Linked DNA regions of Homo sapiens: region 1 is linked to region 2. The links come from fine-mapping of genetic effects on plasma protein levels. Region 2 holds a variant in brackets. A gene starts in the other region. All regions are shown on their reverse strands.

Region 1 (11,136 bases), not on the chromosome of region 2:
AAATGCTAAATAATTTATGTTGATACTCCTCCCTCAGAAAGGTGGAGCATAACTCTCCACCAGTAAGTATGGGCTGGACTTAGTGATTTCCCTCCAGAATACAGTATGGGGAGTAGGAGGAGGTAAAGAATTACTTACTATGGAGAAACCTGACAAAATGAACTCAACCAGGTGACCAAGGTCAATATCAAGAATAGTTATCATGTTGACATTATTCACCCTTCATAAAATCAGTAGAAATGATATTTTATCATTGTGGTCTTCTTCCACCAAACCAGAAAAACCTAACCATGAGAAAAACCTCAGAAAAGACACAATTGTAGAACATGCTATGACATACCTGATGAGTACTCTTTGAAACTTTCAAGGCCAGCAAAAGCAAAGTCTGAAAAACTGTCACAGCCAAAAGGATCCTTAGGACAAATGACGACTAAAGGTAATGTGGTATCCAGGATGGGACACTGGAACATAAAAAAAAAAATTAGACAAAAACAAAGAAAATGTAAGTAAAATATGGACTTTAGTTAATAGCAATGCACTAATGTTTGTTCCTTAGTTTCAACAAATGAACCTTACTAAGGTAAGCTATTAACAATAGGAGAAACTACATGCAAGATGTACAGAAACTCTCTGTAACATTTTTGAATTTCTCTTTGAATCTAAACGTTTTAAACATAAAAAGCTTTATTAAAAAGAAAAAAGTGGCAGAGCTAAGCCTGTCTAATTCCCAAACCCAACTCTATGTTATGAACTGAATGTTTGTATTCCCTCAAAATTTATACATTGAAGCCCTAACCCCCAGGGTGACTTGGATATAGGATTTTTAGGAGGTAATTAAGGTTAAATGACGTCATAATAATGGAGTCCCAACCTGATAGGATTGGTGGCCTCATAAGAAGAGAAAAAGCGAGATCTCCCTATCTCTCTTCATGTGAACATGATGAAAAAAGGCCATGTGAGCTCACAGTGAGAAGGTGGCCATCTGCAAGCCAGGAAAAGAGACCTCACTAGGACTGAATCACCGGATCTCATACTTCCTAGCTTCTAGAACTGTGAGAAGATAAATTTTTGTTGTTTATGCCACCCAGTCTATGGCATTTCGTTATGATAGCTTGAGCCTTACTGCCTTTAGACCTTGATTCTAGGAGTTACTTTGAAAGTTGGACCAATCACTTGACTATGCAGACATCTATTTCCTCTCATTAAGATGAGAATAATAATACTGCCTGCCTATCTCAGCAGCTACTTTAAATTCAAATCGTTAATATATGGGAAAGTATTGTACAAATGTAGATAATTAATTCTTATTAAATTAAACGGATACTAGTTTTTCTTATCTCCCAAAAGCCTAAACATAGTAAATTTAGAGAGTAATGCTGGTTTTATTTTCTAAGGTTTAAACTTGTTTGCATTTGTGGATTATACTCCTTGGATCTCAAAACTAACTAGTTATGTGGACCATTATTAGGTGGTAATGCTGGGGACAAAATTATTAAAAGTATCTTACAGAGATTCATAGGGACAATAATAAGAACTTTCAATATACCTTAAAGACAAAGGACAGTAACTTCAGAATATTTTGTAAGCATGATATCATATTTTCTGCTAAGTCATTTCTGAAGAGTTTACATTAGTTTTAGCGTTTTAAAAATACTGTATTTATGGACAGATGGCAGGTATATATTATAGGGCTAAAGAAATATTTCCGAAAAAATTACACTATGAGAAATATAAAAGCAATTTAAATGTATCATTAAAGGAAGACATGTAGTTATCTCTGAAAAAATCTTAAATTCCAAGGATTGTTAGACTAAAGATATAACTGAATTGTTTGGGGGAATCATAAGGACCATTAAATTATTTTGAGGTTAATAACATGTATATTGATGTCACCTTAAAACAAAGGAAGGATGAGAAACGAAGATGATACAAGAGGTAGATTTCACCTTTTTTTTAACTCCTTTAACATATCATTCTGCATCTATGAAAGATTTTTTGAAGAATTATTTTAAGCTCATCCTCCCTCTCTTCTCCAGCTTTGCTGCTTCTCATTTCTTACTCTTTCCTGTCACCATTTCTCCTTACCAAGAAGTTGGGGGAAGGAGGGAAAATGACCACGTAAAGCTGTGTTAGTTTGTTGTAAACTCATTAAGCATTCATTATTTGGCTGGGTGCGGTGGCTCACACCTGTAATCTCAGCACTTTGGGAGGCCGAGCTGGGTGGATCACCTGAGGTCGAGAGTTCAAGAACAGCATGGCCAACATGGGGAGACCCCGTATCTACTAAAAATACAAAAATTAGCTTGGCGTGGTGATGCATGTCTGCAATCCCAGTTACTTGGGAGACTGAGGCAGGAGAATCACTTGAACCCGGGAGGCAGAGTTTGCAGTGAGCCAAGATTGCGCCATTGCACTCCAGCCTGAGCAACAGAGTGAGACTCCTCTGTCTCAAAAACAACAACAACAACAACAACAACAACAAACATTCATTTTTTGAGTTAATTTTTGAATTTATTTCTTTGCATTCTGGGAAACTAGGTAGCTCATTTATTTAAATCTTCAAATCACAGTACTTTGTTTATATTCAACACGTTTTTGTATCCTGGGTTACGTGCTATCTTGGTCTCTAAAGAGAGTTGAAGGAGGAAGGAGAAATAAAAAGGATGGAGAAGGTGGTCAGAGAGGTGTAAGGGAGGTGTAAGGGCATATGAAGAGGCAAAATTGTACCCAAATCCATGGAATTTTAGCTCAGTGTTACTTTCCCAGCAGAGCCTTGCTCTGTGCCTTTCTTTCTCTACTTCAACTATTAGTAAGAGAGGGTTAGTAAGGATGCCTTTTCCTACTGGTTCTCTCTATGTACCATGTAAAATTTTATAATGACATAACAACTATCAGTGGAACATGGTGGCTCATGCTTGTAATACTAGCATTTTGGGAGGCTGAGGAGGAAAGATTACTTGAGGCCAGGAGTTCGAGACTAGTCACATAGTGAGACACCCATCTCTACCAATACTACTACTACTAGTACTCCTACTCCTACTACTATCAACTATAATTCACTGAACAGTTTCTAATACACCAGATTTTTTCCTTGAAGATATGTATTATTGGGAATCATAAAAACTGTGCAAGTCATTACCATCACATTTTATCAATGAGGAAACTGAGGTTCAGAGAGGTAAGTAGTTTGTGGTTCAGTCATTGGGTGACACAGATCCAAATTGAACAGACTGAACAGATTCCAAAACCAATTGTACATAATATTCCAGCTCTGTTGTCCCACCTAGAGGAGTGTCTACCTTGCTGGAAGTCTGGGACCAAGTAGGAAGAGATGAAGCCACTGTGGCAAGGACTTTAGGAAGAGATGTCTAGGGCCACATAGGTGCTTTCTCACTTAGCCTACAACTAGGGCCAGCACAAAAGCCCAGATTTTTTAAAATCAGAAGTTACTTTTTGAAGTATGTTTCAATATGGCCAAAGAAAAAGATCATCATGGTGAACTGAAACTAACAGGTATAATGTCACAGAGACAATTATTTTTGAGGTTTAATAACATATGTTAAGCTGCCATTTAAAAGAGATAGCAAGTCAGCCGGGCGTGGTTGCTCACGCCTGTAATCCCAGCACTTTGGGAGGCCGAGGTGGATCTCCTGAGGTCAGGAGTTCGAGACCAGTCTAGCCAACATGGTGAAACCCCATCTCTACTAAAAAAAAACCACAAAAAATTAGCTGGGTGTGGTGGCAGGTGCCAGCAATCCCCAGCTACTTGGGAGGCTGAGACAGGAGAATTGCTTGAACCCGGAGGCAGAGGTTGCAGTGAGCAGAGATCACGCCATTGCACTCCAGCCTGGGGGACAAGAGCAAGATTTTGTCTCAAAAAACAAAATAAATAAAAATAAAAGAGATACAAATCAAACACATTGAGAAATACATATAAAAAGTGGATCCCCTAGACTGAAGAGGAAGATACAAGAAAGTAGGCAGGAAAAAAAATAACTACCTCCCTCAGAACAACTAGATTATAAAATACAATTACCTGAATACAACTTTTGAGCAGTGATTTTTCACTGATACATTCTTAGAAACCAATTCAGTAGTTTTAAATAAAATATTTGAAAGTTCTCTCTATGTAACTGTACCACTAATAATCTACAATGCATGATGCTTATCATTACTATAAAAATTACAATTTTAAAAATGCCTTTCATCATTTTCATTCACCCACTCTTATTAAATAAAGTTAATGGTCATTAGGAAATTTTCCTATACTACTGAATGCCTTAAAGCCTTCATTTGGAGAATACATGTTGGCCTAGAAGGAATGCATTCCAAAATTTTCCTTTCCATCATGGCGTGTGTCTGTTTATGTGTTGTGCCCTATATGTAACTACAAGTTTATTTTGTCCTGTCCAGAAGACGGGGAGGACGGTCCCAGCTGCAGGCTGTTCTGTGTGGGAAGAGAAAAAGGCTGATGCTTAAAGGCCCTCCAAAGGAATCTACTTAAGCCTCATACCAGATTTGGGAGGACTGGTTATACCTGCCTAAACCTGGCACAGGAAGAACAGCACTCAAGCAATTCCTACCTTGGGGTTAACTAGGAATACAAGTTTCACCTTGTGACTCTGGTGTAACTTTGGTTTATTTTTCTCTTAGTAACAGCTCAGCTTGCAAATGAAAGCACTGAGACGCAACTCAGTTACATGTTTGAGGACTCAGGAAAATCAATTCTTACCTTCCACTCTTCCAAATGTAATGGTTGTATTCCAGCTTTACCATGCCCCATAAGCAAATGACTTGAGAGAGAGAGGTGGTTGGGGGCTGGGGGAGAAAAAGAAGAAGGAGAAGGAGAGGGAAGAAGAGGAGGAAGAACAGAGAGAAAGAAAGTGAGGGGAAAAAAAAGAAACAAACAAAAAAAGACAGGAAAAGTCTCTTAACATTGAAGAGATTGGATATCCAGTGTCAGAAAATTTGGATTTTCTTGGGAGTACTTATTTTATTTATGGTGGTAAATAAAGCCCTCAAGGAAGGTTATTAATTTATCTGTCCTATTTAGTATATTAAATTATACTACTTCATATTCTAGTGGCCTGAAAAAGTTAATTTACCACTTGAATGGCATAAATGATGAATACTTACACCAAGTCCTGGAATTTTCCAATGCTCAACAAACATTTAGTACTTTTTGTTTAGGTCTCGCTTTTTTTTTTTTTTATTAGTATCTACGAAAAAGGAAAACAAAATTGTAGCATTCTGTTGGGGCTAACAGGACAGCTGTTGGCTAGGCTAAATGCCATCTTGGAGTAAGAGATACTTTAACTTAGGGCACTGGTGCTGAGAGATGGAGAGAATATCAGAAAAGAAAAATGCAGGGTGGAAGTGTTGAGAGGGAGGGAGATGATGTCAAAATCCATTGGCTTCCAGTGTTTCTGCTCTTTTTAGCTGGGGTGCAGTAACCTTCCATCTTACAACTTTGGGTTTCTTTAAACTTCATGCCTGCCCTCTCTACCAATGTTTTATGAGCTGTCATGTGGGACTAGAATGGGATTCTGAAAATTAAGAGCTGATTTTTATTCCACCGGATATATCAGTTGCCTGGGGCAGTAAAATAATTTAGTTTTGAAATGAAATGTTATTCGTGGGAGACAAGTGCACAACAATTTACTTAACTTAAACAGTAGGATGAGGAGGAAGAGGCAGACACCCAAACTACATTTCATATGTAAAATAAGGCTTACATGACTTTTGGATGCTATAGAAATAAAATTTCTGTACTGAGGGGCATAATTATCCACATAAATCTTATATGAGGAACACAGACCAGTACAAAAGCAGCTGTATCTTTTGGTTATCTTGGAGGCAATATATAACCACATAAGGTAAAATTGGATGCTGCTTGCTTTCTCTAAAAGCTGTGAGGATGTCTTTCTGTTCCAGAAATTGCTTAATGCAAGTAAATGAAAATATACTGAATACATGAGTAAATTCATAAACAGAAATACAAATGAAATTTCTAAAGTAGGTCCTGGTGAGCCCCAATTTTATGAATTATTAGAAGACAATGCACCCAGAAACTAAGACACTAGCTTGAAGACTTTTTTCATTTCTTTTCTTTTTTTTTTTTTTTTTTTTTGTTGCTGATGTTGTTGTTGTTGTTGTCGTTGTTTTGAAACAGTGTCTCACTCTTGCGCCTTGGCTGGAGTGAAGTGGCTCGATCTAGGCTCATTGAAGGCTCCATCTCCCAAGCTTAAGCGATCCTCCCCACCTCAGCCTCAGGGAATGGATGGGACTGCAGGTGCACACCACCATACCCGGCTATTAATTTACTTTTGTATTTTTTGTAGAGACGAGGTTTCGCTATGGCTTCAAGACTTTAAAAGGCAACAATGACTCTTTTGAAATTGCCTGCATTATCAAATGCCTGAAGTCAACCACAATGAATGGTGAGTCTGGTTTCTCCATGACACTAGCAATCCTCTGAAATAAAGGAAGTTAGAATTCCAGAACACGTTTGGGTCTCTGACTCTTCCTCGGTGGCTTCCAGGAGTTTAGGTCAGCCTGCAGGCCCGACCGGAACCCCCGACACCCCTCCACGCGGATTCTTTACATCTCCCTCCCTACCTTGTTTACGCCCTAGGGGGTAGGGAAATGAACAGTCAGTCAGGTGAGACCCAGCAGGGGGAGTGGTGAGCTGGTCCGAGGGCAGCCCGAATATGTCCCTGGGTGTGGGTATGGGTGTGGGGCAATTTGGGTGGGAGCAGCGTGGAGGCTCCCAGGACCAAGTCCTGCGCCTCTTTGGCGGGGTGTGTGCAGGAGGAGGGGGGATAAATAGGAGGCTCCCTCCTCCCGGCGACATTCACGGAGCCGGCCGGCCTCCCGCCCTGGGTGTTTCCCTGCCTTGTAGCCAGGGTGCCAGCCTGGGAAGTAGTTTCGTTTCCTTCTGCCTCCGGGATTAGTTTCCAGGCACCCTCTCAGGCGCCCGAGGCCCGGGAAGGGGGCGAAGAAGGAGGGAGACTTGTCTAGGGGCTGCCCGGCCCGGCAGAGCGGGGTTGATGGACCGGGCCGCCCGGTGCAGCGGCGCCAGCTCCCTGCCACTGCTCCTGGCCCTTGCCCTGGGTAAGTGGCCGTGCTGGGCACTGGAAACCAGGAGGAAAGTCTGGGGCTGGAGTCGCGGGGAGGGCGAACCCTGAACCGAGCTGGCATCTGGACAAGAGGGCGCGCTGGGGCTGGCAGGCGCGGGTTGGAGAACTTTGAAGGCTGGGAGAGCGCGAGGTTAAAGATCTGGCAATTGGGCACCTGGGGCTGCACCTGCTGGAGGCAGTCCCTAGACGCGTGAGAAGGCCCGAGGGCGGAAGCGATTCCGAGGTCCTCGCTGCCAGTGCTGCGAGCAGGCCGCCAGCTGCTGACTTGTGCGCACAGCAGAGGGCCTGGCGGCGCCGGCGGGCTGTCCACCGGGGTGAGGCGCTGTGCTCGCAAGTGAGGGTCGGGGGGTGGGGGCAGGGGCGAGCAGGGAAACCCACTAAAGAAGCTCACGTGGTAGTATAGACCAAGAAGCATATCCTGCAGGAGGCAGAAGAACGGGAACTCTTTGACTGAAGGTGTGATCACCTGGCGTTAGGGAAGAGTGCCAGCGGGAGGAGGAGTAGCAGGATGCCTAGAGCCCTCCAGAGGGTCTCTCCTGCCTCCTTAGGAGTCAGAACTCACAAAGCAGAGCTGGAACTTCAGATGTGGCTGGAAGCAGGCTTCCCCTTCCCCTCCACCGAGGGAAGGTAGTGAGAAGGCTTCTAAGTAGGAAAAAATCCCAACTCTTCAAAGCTTGCTCTCTGCATCATGGTCATTTTGCGGGGCAGAGAAGGGAAGGGAAACCAGTAACATTTTCTAATCTTAGCTGGGCTGTAGACACATCTGGGTTTGGAGCATTTATGTGGTAGGAGGAGAGTCTCCACAGCTGAAGTGTCACCACGATATCACTCCTACCTTCAAGCCTGGGAAGGGGACACCACAAATGAAAAAGAATGGGAATTCCTCTTATTGAGGAAAGAGAGGGGGAGCCTAAATGAAAACTTTCATTTGACTGTGTCCTTGGAGTAAGAGAGGTGGCTAAAAAGGTACAGTGAACTTGCTTGGAGGTGGATCAGACTTAGGACCAAGGTTAGAGAAAATAAACTTATTTAACAAACGCTGAAGAGGAAGGAGTCAGTAACAATTTAGTGGTAGAGTGAATGTGTACATTCATGAAGAAGAGCAATGGGGTTGAGACTTAACCCTAGAAATAGTACTGATGCTTTTGCCAGCATTGCTTGCAAGTAGCTGACATTCTCTTCCTCCACCGTGTCTAAACTATCCAACAGTCAAAGTATTCCCTGAGAATCTGTCGTAGTCAGCAAGGTGCTGAGGTATGTAGCAATGGAGGTGGGGAAAGGGCTCATGAGATTCCTAAAATAAAACATGATTCCTGCCCTAGAACTTGCACTGAATTTGGATATGCAAGCCCAGCAGGGTAACCTGTGGAAAAATTCACGGAATCAGAAAAGGGAGAAAGAGCTCAACAGCGGGGGCTGGAATAGTGGGGAAAGGCTGAATGGAGGACACGAATGCGTGCCTTGAGGCTTGGGTAGAGTTTGCAATAGTAGAGAGGAAAGAGGGAACAGAGACAAGGGAAAAAGCATTTAGTAAAGGGTTGGCGATGCGAATGAGCATGCTTTACTGGAAAGAGTAGAATTTCTGAGAGGCAGACAGATTATGAAGAACTGAAAAAGCCAGATTAGAATATTTGGAACAGAATCAATAAGCTATTAAACACACACCATCACAGGGCTTGACTGGGAGTGATATGATGCAAACAATGGTTTAAAGGTGATAAATCTGTCAGTGAGGTGCAGTATAGGAAGGGGGGGCGCCTGTGGGCCAGAGGACCTGATTGTCTCGTAGGTATAATCTGGGCATGAGCTACTTGGGGCCTAAATTAGGGTGATGTTTTAGCAGAGGTGTCATAGTAGAAATGACTATTGAAAGTCGATGGACATTCTTTCCCCTTTACTATCACAAAACTTGTCAAAAGACAGAAATGAAAATCAAAAAGCAAAACTCGAATCCAGTGCTATTGTACACTCAGGGTAACCTAAATGTACAACCGCCCTGTTAAATGATTGGCTTGGGAAATTGAATTTGGTCTCTAGATCCCCTTAAAGCTCTATTTCTTGCAAAATGCTAAGGAACGTAATTTGTTGGCATCGCTGTTTCCATTAAGTGGCCCTATTTCTGTCATACACACTTTACTTTTAAGTCCCCTTCCTAAATTATGTCACATGTTGTTCTATTTACTTTTTGAAAAGAATGTGAGCAATAAGATGCATGAGACACTAGTGTTTGTGTGTGTGTGTGTGTGTGTGTGTGTGTGTGTGTGTGAGATGGTGGAAATGCGATGAGAGTGGGCATTGAGCAGACATGAGCCCTGGTTCCAGCTCTACCACTTCATGACTCCGAGATGTCTGTAAGTTACAACTTTCTGGGCATTGTTTTTCTAATTTGTAAAATGAAGAGGTTTCATTAGATGGTGATGCCCTTTCCATGTCACATTCTTTTCAAAAAGTAAACAAAATAACATGTGATTTAAATTAGAAATGGCTTATGTCTATTACAAATGTAGATGCTCCTTAAATACATCTGGCATTTAGTAGATGCATCTTTACAGGATAATTTCCATTCTAACATATGCAAATTAGGTACTACTTTCTTTGAGAAATTTTATAAAGACAGAAGTGGGGTTGGAGATATAAAAAGAAGGTATACCATAAGCAGATTATATGGTACAAATACATTTAATATAAATATAAATTACACGTTTATGTGTTATCGATATTCTTTATATGCATTAATTTGGTTTAATTTTCTAAAACTGTTTAAAGGCATTTTCTAAGTCAGTAGAAATCCTGAGCCATTTAATCTTACTTTCTCAAAAAATGAGATTTTCCAAAATGGGCTCGTATTTCTCTACTGTATTTTCTTTTTCTTTTTCTTTTTCTTTTTTCTTTTTTTGAGACAGTCTCACTCTTTCGCTCAGGCTCAGTTACAGTGGCATGATCTCAGCTCACTGCAACCTCCGCCTCCAGGGCTCAAGTGACTCTCCTGTCTCAGCCTCTCGAGTAGCTGGGACAACAGGCACTCGCCACCACGCCCAGCTAATTATTGTATTTTTTGAAGAGACGGGGTTTTGGCATGTTGGCCAGGCTGGTCTTAAACTCCTGGTCTCAAGAGATCGTAGCAGATAAATATTTGTTGCTGAATTAGGTAGGGAGAGATAGGACATTCAAGTGCAGAATGTCCTGTCTAGGGAGAGATAGGACACTCCAGTGCAGAGACGTTGCGTTGCATATAACAGGAAAAACCAATACTGGAAACCATTTCTTTTGACTTATTTAAAAAGCATGTAAGCTCATCCTAGCTGTCTCCTACACCTTTGCTTTCCCTACTGCCTACCCATACATCTGTGCCATCCCTGGCTCTGGCTATTCTCTGACAGATTCTTGGACTCCTGGCTCTTCCTTGCTTCCAGGAAACCCTGCTTCTCCTAGCTCAGGGCCAGGCTAGCCTGACTAATAATGTTCAGTTGGTATTGGTCAGACCAGGTGCTTTATTTTGGACTGTGTCTGGCCTGTGTCACTCAGTGTCTATTCTGATTCTATTCTAGTCTGACTCTATCCTTGAATTTGTGGGTGACTCCTGTATATTCTCCAGTCTGCTTAGTGCACCAACACCTAGAGGATGCTCCTTTGGGCAGATGGAGAAGGGGTGACATCGCTTCATAGTCTCCCTGATAGAACCCACATGGCAATTACTGAAAATGGGTAAAAAGAGCATATCTTGAGGCAGGGTCATGTAGTGGTCAAGCCTGTAAACTCTGAACCAGACCTTTGGGGCATGGCCTCCTGGTGCTGTGACTTGCTAGCTCTGAAACTTCGGGCAAGTCTCTTAAACCTCCTTGGCCCAGTTTACTCACCTGTAAAAGCTAATAGTAATAGGACCAATGCAATTACGTGAATTAAATGCAATACTATGTAAAGCCACTCAAAATGTGCCCCAAACATAGAATAAGCATGAGTTATTATAATAGACAGTAGGAAAGCACAGGACAAATCA
Region 2 (10,677 bases):
TACGACTTTTAGATGAAAAATTTGGGAAAATCTTCATGACATTGGATTTGACAATGACTTCATGGGTATAACAGTAAAAGAGTAGAAAACAAACAAAAAAGAAAAATTGAACTTTATCAAGGTTAAGAACTTCTGTGCATCAAAGAATACTATCAAAAAGTGAAAAAGATGACCTAGTAAATGAGAGAAAATATTTGTAAAGCATATACCTGATAAGGAATTAATATTCAAAATACATAAAGAACATCTAAAACTCAGTAACAATAAAACAACTTAATTCAAAAATGGGCAAAGGACTCGAATAGACATTTTTCCAAAGAAAATATACAAATGGCCCCTAAGCACATGAAAAAATGCTCAACATTATTAGTCACTAGGGAAATGCAAATCATAACCACAATGAGATACCTCTGCACACTTACCAGGATGATTATAAGAAAACAGAAACAAACAAACAAAACCCCAGAAAATAACAAGTGCTGGTAAGAATGTGGAGAAACTGGAATCCTCATGCATTGCTGGTGGGAATGCAAAATGGTGCAGTAACTATGGGAAAGTTTGGTGGTTTCTCAAAAGATTAAACATAGAGCTGGGCACAGTGGCATGCACCTACTAAGAAGCTCTGGACCCAGACTGCCTGGCTTCAACTATGCTCCCACTGTTTTCTAGTTCATAGTCACTACCTCCGTAGGGGATTTTCGGGGGCACTAAGACTTCTCAGGTATCAAAGCCAGGACTTAAACCAGTGCTTTTCTCACGAAGGCAGACAGCCTCTTGGGAAGCTGCAAAGTATCAACAAAGGTAAGATTTGACGGTTATGAAGAGTACAGCAGGCCGTGGCTCACGCCTGTAATCCCAGCACTTTGAGAGGCTGAGGTGGGCAGATCACCTGAGGTCAGGAGTTCGAGATCAGCCTGGCCAACATGGCAAAACCCCATCTCTACTAAAAATACAAAAATTAGCTGGGTGTAATGGTGGGCGCCTGTAATCCCAGCTACTTAGGAGGCTGACACAGGAGAATCGCTTGAACTCAGAAGGTGTAGGTTGCAGTGAGCCTAGGTCGTGCCACTGCACTCCAGCCTGGACCACAGTGTGAGACTCCATCTCAAAACAAACAAACAAACAAACAAAAAAGAGTACAGCAGAGGCTTCAAGGCTCATTTCGTGCCTGTGTGTAGTCTGCAGGGGGCAGTGGGAGCAGCCTTAGTTTCCTGAGTCTGAATTTAGGAAGAAATTTTCAAAATGAGGCCCAAAACTCCCTTGCTGAGAAAACAAGCCTTCCATCAGGGGATCATTCTCTGGTCTAGCCAAACTTGCAGTTCCGGGAAAGCTGCTTATGTTTATTGTAGTTTGGTTTTGGGTGGAAAGGCTGTTTTGGTTCTAGAGTTTTGCTTTCCTCTTGGCCCAGCTGCAGGCCCAGACGGGTCCTTGTTGGAAGTCAGCCCTCCTCCCCGAAAGGAGGAAAGGCCCTCCTGTCTGTGGTCGGCGGCATTGTACTTGCTGGATTCCAGGCTGTCAGTCTCATGGGTGAGCTCCCGGGATGCTTAGCCTGCAGATTGTTTTGTTAGTTTTTTCCTGCAATTAATTTGGAAATTACCCAGCTACCCACAGCCTCTCCCAGGTGTTCTGTAAACTACAGGCCTGCTCCTGCAGCTTTCGCCTTGGTGGAACCAACCCTGGCTGAAGCTGGGAGGGTTCTGGGTGGGGTGACAGGAGTCCCACAACGGCAGGGCTTGTTTTTAGCAAACGCCAGTTCCCTTCAGCTTGGTCACTAACCATCCTACTTTGTTGGATCCGAAGCAACTGGATCCACACACTCAAAGACACTATCTTTAAGCCTTACATGCCGTATGGAGATAAGCCAGGGGCATATGGAGAATCCACCCTACTCAGAGGCTCGAAGCCAGAGGATTCCCAAGCGCCAGTCAACACTAACAGGTGATTCTCCCAGCCTCCTGATTCCTACATCCAGGGAGGAAGGAGCCTCAGATTTCTGGTTCATTTTACTGAGGATTTGTTACACCCGGGTTGAGGGTTGGTCCCTCCTGTGTGCAACGGTCACATGACTTGAGCTCATTACCCCTTTTCTTGGACCTTAGTTTCCTTGCCTGAAAAGGGTGCATTTGAAACCTTCTGCTTCCCAGGGGAGCTGTGAGGATCCAAAGAGATAACACCTGTGAAAATGGCTGGTACTCCCTGAACAAAGTGGCTTTTGGAAAATGTTGGGATTATTATTAGTTTTGTTCCTGCTGAGCCCCTGGAGCTGTGGAAGGGCCCTGAACTAGGGTCTACAATGATAACTCACTGTTACCTTGGAAAGTTACTTTCTCTGGCTTCTCTTCCATAAAACAAGGGGTAGGGCTAGATAGTCTGTTAGCTGCACATTTATTTATAAGAAGCCAAGAGAAGTCTCAAAGGGAATACATCAAGAATCAGTTTTCCCCTGCCCTTTCATGGTCACTTTCTGTATCAGTTAGGATACATTTGTTTGTTGTTGTTGTTGTTATTGTCATTGTTGTTTTTGAGACAGAGTCTGGCTCTGTCACCCAGGCTGGAGTGCAGTGGTGCGATCTCGGCTTACGGCAACCTCTGCCTCCCGGGTTCAGGTGATTCTCCTGCCTCAGGCTCCTGAGTAGCTGGGATTACAGGCATACACCACCATGCCCTCCCCTATTTTTTGTTAAGACCAAATGAATGTGTTCCAGAAGTCCACAGCAGACTTTCCTGAACATCTCATTGGCCCAGAAAGTATCCTGTACCTGTTTCCAAATCAATCTCTGACAAGAGTGATAGGATAGTGACTGCGCTTACCTTATGCAAGTCAAGATTCACTGCCAAGGGATAAGACACAACCAACTGAAACCTGAACAAAATCAGGGTCTTGCGAGCAAACAAGAAGTGAAGAAAATGGGTGGGTAGACAACTAGCAGTGTCTGGCACACTTTCTTCTCAAAATAAGCTGATATTTATATGGCAGAAAGAGGGTGGATTGTTTCATGCCTGTCTGGAGTTGCCTGCTGGACAGTTGTCCTCAACATGGCCCTGCCATCAAAAGCCCTGAGCACAGTCCCCAGGAGAGGACACCATTCTTTATGAGCACCTGTGCAGGGAAAATGAAGGCGGACCCCACTTCACACAAGGTTGAATAGTTGTGTGAGGTTTTGATAAAAATTTGGGATAAAAGAATGTGTTGGCCGGGCGCGATGGCTCACGCCTGTAATCCCAGCACTTTGGGAGGCTGAGGTGGGCGGGTCACCTGATGTCAGGAGTTCGAGACCAGCCTCAACATAGAGAAACCCCGTCTCTGCTAAAAATACAAAATTAGCCAGGCATAGTGGTGCATGCCTGTAATCTCAGCTACCCGGGAGGCTGAGGCAGGAGAATTGCTTGAACCTGGGAGGCGGAGGTTGCAGTGAGCTGAGATTGCGCCATTGCACTCCAGCCTGGGCAACAAGAGTGAAACTCCATCTCAAAAAAAGAGAATGTGTTATGATGTGGGAGTGGAAATTTTTGAAAACATTCATATTAAATGTAGTTTTCTTCATACTGTGAGAAACCCTTCACAGGACTGCTCGTGGAAACGCCATGTTCCTAATTGCACTCCCTGTTCCTGAGGTCTGGGCCTCTGTGAGAGAGTGACATGGTCTGGCTGGGCTTTGAGCTGGGTCACACATTGGCTGCTGTAGGGAAAACTGCCAAGGGAGCAGGGGAGGAAGCAGGGGGTCCTGTTAGGGGCTGGCACTGTGATCCGGGAGAGATGACAGGGTCCTGGAGGGCTGGCGGCTGTGGAAGCGTGGCATGGGGTTAGGTGGTTCCTGGAGAGGGAATGGTCAGGGCAAATTCATGATGACAGGAACACATGGGAGTGTCAGGGAACAGCAAATGGTGTGTTGGCTGCAGCCTAGGGGTGTGGGAAGGCAGCTATGGGAGACGTGGCCGGCAAGAAGGTTGACATAAGGATGACCGAGGGTCCCAAGTGCCAGGTGAGGCACTGAAGCGTTCTACTGCAGACGGCAGGCAGCCTTCTCCACAGGACTGGAGCTCAGCTTCAGGGAGGCAAGCTGGCAGCACGGACAGAATGGAGGCAGGAGTACTCTTGGGAGGCCCTGGCTGGCTGCTGGGGCCGTGAGCAGAGGTGGGAGTTGAGTCCTGGGAGGTGGTGGCTCTCAATTTATTGCCTGGTTGCAGAGCACCTCCATGCCTGAGAAACCATGACTGGGGCTCTGCCCTGACCACCCCCACTTGAGAAACTGCTCCAGGTTCTCAGATAGCGAGATAAACTGGTGCTCTGCCCCATGGCTGAGATCCACCCTGATTCTGGCTTCCCAATCTCTTCCTCACCCTGGGAGGGGCTGACAGCTGTTCCCTGGGTGTCTGACTAGGTGCTTCCTGGTTAACCCTTCTGGGCTGAGCTGGAAATCCGAGCTTCCGTTCTCAGAAGAGGGAGTGTGGGGCTGGCAGAGGGGTTCAGGAACTCCACAGGGAGCAGACAGCATTCCTCTTTTGAGGCCAAGCATTGAGGACCATGCCAGGGGCTCTGCAAAGGCTGGCTTTGGCCTCAGCCAGGGAGAGGAGATGCTGGAGAGAGGGCCGGGGCAGGAGAGCAGAACTCACTAAGGGCATTCCATCTCGCCCCTACTCTGCCTGTCCATCCCATTTAAAATTTTGTTCACTGCTTAGTTTGGCCTGAGGAGCACTAACTACACTACTTTCTCTCAAGGTAGTTCTAAGCTATTTATTTAACAGGTAAGTCCATTCCTCAAGCTGCAGTCCATCCCCACTCCTTAGCCCCTACCTTCACATCCTCACCAGATTACTTTTACTTCCATATTACCTTCATTAAGATGATAATCAAATGCAGTCTCCATTGGGGGAGGCAGAGGTTCTAGTCCAGCTTGGACACTTGTAACTGTCATATCTTGGGCAAGTCACACACCCCTTCTATGGCTCTATGGAGGCTCCACACACACTCACAATATTCCTATTTATTTCTATTGGGAACTTATACAAGCAATGAGATGAAAATCCTGGTTCTCCCCATGTGGTGCAATGTGATCCTGGGAACATGCTTTCCCAATCTGGGCCCCTTCCCCATCCTTCATGGTACATGCCCCTGTCTGAACTGTTTTTCATCAGGGACATATTCCCCCAGCTATCTTGTCATGTCTACCCTCAGGAACAGGCTGAGCACACACAGAAAGTCAAGCTCGTATGTGTTCAAGGCAGGGGAGGGTTCCTTAGGGCACTGAGGAGGACCTTAGGCTTTTACTAGAGGATCCTTTGGCCCAGACTGACTTGGAGACAGGGACCCCTTCCAGTTGGCCATTGTGTCCTGAACAGAAAGCTTAATTTTTCTCCTAAACCCTCAACTACCTCAGACTTGGGGCTAGAGCTGAGGGGTCAGAGGCAAAGTTTATTCTATACTCAGGCAATTGACTGTTGCTAAGGGAGGGTATAGAGCTTGAACCCAAGGTCCCTACAGTGCCTCAGCCCGAAATCAGGACGTGGCTTCCTGCCCTGGCTCTGTCACCCCAGCTTTCAAGATGTTTTCAGATATACTCTTGTTGAATGTCATTGTCACAGTCACCCATACAGCTGGAAACAGGAGATGAGGTACAGTCTAAGGGCTAGGATTCCAAGACTCAGAAAGTACTCAAAGGAGGAGATGAAGCACTCCACCCCATCTCTGTCCCCTTGCCACCCTGCCCTCTCTGCTCTCTGTGGTCAGAGCCACAAGACAGCGCTGGAGTGCTAGCTGGGGTTCCGGGCCAGAAACAGGAGGCTTCTAGAAGTTATTCTGGCATCTCTAATCTCAATAACACATTTTTTCAAAGTTCTTTCTCTTTGACCAGGGCATAGGAATCACCTAAGGGTCTTATAGAAAGGCAGGTTCTGGTCTAGGAGGTCTGGGGTGAGGCCAAAGAACCAATATTTCTAGCAAGCTCCCAGGGAATGTCCTTGCAGCCGACCTCCATCTCTTGTGTAAACCAACAGGGAGGGCTTGCCTCCCTTTGCCCCCAGGCCTTGCTCCTGGCCCTTGCAGAAGTGCATCTTGCATTCAAGTGACCAAAAGAAGAGGCATTAGAAAATGTGAAAGGGTAAAAGGGGACCTGCACCCAGTTTTATAGGTGGGGAAACAGGCCCACTCCATGCCAGAAGGAATTTGTTCAAGACCTCACAGCAATTTAGTGACAAAGTCAAGACTCAGGCCTCCTGTATAGGGGAAAAGTCAAAAGCAAAAACAAACTCCAGAAAAGATATATACTTAAGCGTTAACTGCGCATTCTCTGGGCCAACTATGGGTTCCCCCCC[G/C]CCAGCCTTTTTTTTTTTTTTTTTTTGCTGTTATTTCCCTCCCTCTTTATTTTTCTTACCTGTTATTTCTTTTAAAACAATGAACACTACTGATTTTGTAATAAGAAAAAATTTTAGTAAAAGAAAATTCTCACAAAGTTTTTAGTAAATGAGATTATGTTCATGAATGTGTTTGGTAAACTGTAACTCCACAGGGCAGCTCCAAGTCATGAGTGTGCAGTTGGGCTCAAACCGTACAGAAGTCATTTCCAGGATGTTATCCTTACTCTTCTAGGAGCCCACATCGCCCAGATGAGGAAGGCCACCGCTGCCGCCAACGCCGACTACCGTGAGCAGCTTCCTGCTCCCCTGTCGTCGCCTCTGCGGTCGGGGCACTTTCCCCAAAGCGCTGGCCGCAGGAATCTTTCCCCTTAAATCGGGGAAGAAGTTTCTCTAATCCATTTTCGCGGTGAACGACCTCGGGCCAAGTTTGCTTTTGTTGCTGGTTCCCTAAGCTTAATTGCAAGCAAAGTTAATTTGAAAGAAAATACATGATACAGCTCTAGGGCGAATTCTAACGAGCCTTGGGCAATGAGGGAAGAACGTGTCTAATTATCCACAGCCCGGGGACGCCTGCACACGACGCTGGCGGGTGCAGGGCCCGGAGAGGGACAAACGATTTTTCTGTGTTCATAAAGTGAAGAAGAAAAAAATAAAAAAGGCACCTCCAGTCTCTGAGCCCCCAGATGAGGGACTGGGAGGGGTTTGCAAATTCCTAGGGTTAGAAGGTTCCAAGACATACAGCGGAATGTTCTCAGGATCCCACAGTCACGCGGGCTAAGGGGGCCGCCCGCGACCCCGCTGTGGATGAGGCCCCGGGCGGCGCGCACTGTCTCCGAGGTACTCGCTCCCCTGCGCGGCGCCCATTCCCACCTGGCCCGGCCGGTGCGCGAGCTCTTGGTGTCGTCGGCCGGTGGGAGGCCGAGAAGGGCTGTCGCTCTGTCTTCAACGCCTTGATCCCAACCCTCGCGCGTCTCCGTGTCCCTTGGGGCACCTGAAGCACACAACCAGGTCCCTCCCCGCAGCGTCCTCTCTCTCCTGATGCTGACCCTCGCCTTTGGCACAATCTTACCTGTCCCGCAAGTTGACAAGTAGAATGGGGGACGAAAATGTCCGCTCTTTCCCACCCTGTCTTTCTCCTTCCCGGGGCTTTATCATGACACTCCAGGAGGCTTTGTTACAAGGCAGCGCTTATTTAAAGCCTTTCAGCCCTGCTATGCTCTGCGCTTTGCAGTTTACAAAGCGCTTTTCACCTCTCCTCTCGTTTAACTTCAGGAAAATTATCTGAGGTAGCAGTCACAAATTCCCATTTCACAAATGACGACCCGAGAGGAGAAGGGACTGGCTTAAGATTAGTGGTGCTGTCAAAGCACTGGACTTGCTCATTAGGAAACAGAGAAAGCCTCAACTCTGGCACTAAGGGCAAAAACCAGCCTTCTCCAGCCCCAGTCCCACGCCTGGGCTCTTCTGCAGCCCAGAACAAAACTCCTGGGTGGAGAACTCTTACTTTCCCATTCTTCTCAACCAGGCAAGTCATCCTGACCTCTGCACCTGGGACAGCCAGCTTGTCTAGCTGAATGAAGGAGAACCCTTGAACTCCATACCTGCAAAGATTCTTAGGGAGAGGAGGGCGGCCCAATACCTGCACTCTTCAAGGTCACAAGGCTGGGTCTGGAATTTGGGCCGACGGGTGGCAGGGTCAGCGCTCAAGTGCTTCCAGGTACCACCACCAAAGCCAGGAAGGGCCAGCACCTAGACCTGCACTGCACAACACAGTGTTGCTACTGAACACCTAGCAGGTGACTAGTCCACATTTAGAGAAGCTGTAAGTGTAAAACACACTCCAAATTGTAAACCCTTCATGTAAAAGGAGAGCAAAACATCTCAATTTTTACATTGATTATATGTTGAAATCATAATATTTTTGATATGTTGGGTTAAGTATATCATTCAAATTAACCTCACCTGTTTCTTTTTACTTTATTAATGTGGCTACTAGAATATTTAAAATTACATATGTGGCTTGCACCATATTTCTAATGGAGAGCACTGGTTTATACAAATCCCCATTTGGACTGAACCAAGTTCACATGTCTTCGTGAACAGGATAGTGCAGTCCCAAAAATAAAAAATAAAAATTACCAATGGTTTTCATACAATCTTCTTTTTCACACCCCAGCCCTTCCCTGTTAAGTTTATACAGAAAGAGGCTGAGTTTCTCTTGCCATAACTCACTTGCTCAAAGATTTTTATTAAAACAGTCCATCTGAACACTCCAGTTTATCTGAAAGCTGTGAATGGAGCCTCTGAAATATTTAATGCTGAAAGTTTTTGCTCCAGAATCGAAACTTAAAGATTTCTCAAGGGAAAGGGGGAGAGTTATTGGACTTTCTCTAATTTTAGTGAGCCTGCTACTTAAGCAAGATACAAAATGAAGTTAAAATTCCAGTTTCTTTCTAAAGCTCACTTTACTGACTGCCCTAACTTAATTTTTCTCTTTCCTTTTTGCATGGGGGAGGCTGCTGAGGTGTAGCAGGGGGTGCTGGGGATGGAAGAGCCCTCCCCAGCTACTGAAAGGCGTCACCAACGGGCTCCTTGAATCCTCTCATCTCCTTAAACTTTAGTTCACCCTTTGGGTCCAGGGCTGCGTGATGACAAGAAACAGTGGACAAATGAACGAATGTACTTCTCTCTGCCTTATAATGGAAAAGCAGATTTATGACTGGGCAGTAACAGCCATGAAATTACCAGCACGTCCTGCTCAAAAGTTCAATAAGTTATGATATAATTGCTGCCTGGAGCCAATCCTGGGACTTTAGGTTAGACGCTTGGCCATGAACTCTTTTCCGTTCCCTAGAACAGCGGCTAGGCTTTGGGTGGCTACTCAGAGGCCCTGGGTGGCCCACCATTGCTGCCAAATACGCAGGGCAGCATCCAAGATGATGGGGCCCTGAATGATAACCCGGGGGCGGTGGATAGAGTCCTGCAGCCCTCTAGTGTAACAGATGGGGGAGACTGAAGGTTCAGGTGATGGGACTGGAGTGCTGACGCACAGTTCAACTCGGAGCTAGGTCTCAAGTTCTCAGAGACAGGGAAAACCAGCCCAGGTCAACCAGAGCAGAGATTTCTCCAATTTAAAAAAGAAGAAAAGCCTATTTCTTTTGCAAATTTGTCCTCCTCACTTTAAGAAGAAAGGCGCTGCCGCAGCCTTTTATTGTAGTAACGCAGTTAAAGGCACTAGAGGACGAACCGCGTAAAAAGGCCCGAGTTCCGGCAGCACATGGAAGGCTGAAACTGATTCCCCACAATTTGGATCCTGGTCTCTGGTGTTGACACTACGCTGCCCTCTGGTTACCGCCAAGGACCCTCCCCGATAGAATACCAGAAAGCATCCCGTTTGAGGGCTTCGCTCCATCGAGGGTCCCTGTGCCAGTCCAAGGGCTCTGGCTGCCTCGCCCCACCTCCTCCCGTTTACAGAGTACACCGGGTGCCTACGCTGTGCGCGGGGAGACCGAGCCTCTGTGGCCTGCTCGGTCTTTTCCACGTGGGTCCCAGTTGAGTCCTCTCTCCATTCCTGTTCGTTCTCAGATTGCGGGGAACGTGTGAACAGCCGATGTGTCTATGAGTTTTCGTCCCTACGCTGGCTCACATGGCGGACACGAACCGATCTATCCCACCGGGATAAGCGGCAGCATGGCGAGCATGGTAGGCGCCTGCACTGGCCCCTCCGAGCTGCCCGCCAGGGTTGTAGCAGGCTCCCAGCGCTCCGAACTGGCCGGGCGACGTGCGCCCGTAGAAGTCCACCGTGGTCTCCACGCCGCCACTGCTGCCGCCCGCTGGGGGCGAAGCGGGTCCCGCCAGGCGGCCAGCAGCGGCAAAGATCGCACTGCCGGCGCCCTGCGGGTACGCGCCGTCGGGGCCCGCGTAGGCAGCCGCATAGGCGGAGGGGTTGGCCGGCCGGGCCCCGGTGCAGCCTGCGGGCTGGTAGCCGGTGGTGGTAGCGGGGGCGCCGGCGGAGGCAAAGGCGCAAGAGCCGCCGGGCCCCGACGGTGCGGGCCCCAGCTCTGGGCTGAGCGGCCGCTCAGGAACCAGGCCGAAGACGCGGCAAGGGCCGGGCGACGCCGCGGGGTAGTAGACTGGAGGCGGCGCGGCCAGCGACGGCGGCGCGTAGCCTGCATAGACGGCGCCCGGGTAGGGGGGGCGCGCGGCGGGCACCGCGCCTGGGAAGATGGCGGCGGCGGCGGCGGCGGCGGCGGCGGCGGCTGCGGCAGCCGCCGCGTCGTGCATGTAAGCCGGGTAGGTGGAGAGGTCCGAGCGCTTGAAGCG

Which allele goes with the higher level. Positions count from the first base shown, and alleles are read on the strand shown. Strength reflects both the effect of a copy and how common the allele is.
As copies of G replace C in region 2, the plasma level of the protein whose gene starts at base 6,852 in region 1 goes up (weak association).

Evidence for each region. A credible set is the group of variants that fine-mapping cannot tell apart. PIP is the posterior inclusion probability: the model's chance that the variant is causal. The UK Biobank Pharma Proteomics Project read protein levels with antibody pairs (Olink). The fine-mapping took linkage between variants from a reference panel, not from the people measured, so its PIPs are less certain.
Region 1: BTC starts here. The variant in region 2 is the best candidate, but not a certain one, in a credible set for the plasma level of the BTC protein (UK Biobank, PIP 0.71).

What each region holds. Positions count from the first base shown.
Region 1 is chr4:74,790,239-74,801,374 of GRCh38, reverse strand. BTC (betacellulin) reads left to right here and starts at 6,852. Exons shown (of 6, transcript NM_001729.4): 1 at 6,852-7,113. The coding sequence starts at 7,050.
Region 2 is chr9:97,854,356-97,865,032 of GRCh38, reverse strand. FOXE1 (forkhead box E1) reads right to left here. Exons shown (of 1, transcript NM_004473.4): 1 at 8,316-10,677. The coding sequence ends at 9,997. Among named protein-coding and RNA genes, the nearest start is that of FOXE1, 6.5 kb to the right of the region's middle. RefSeq lists an enhancer at 636-2,452. The variant G/C (reference allele first, on the strand shown) is at 6,313.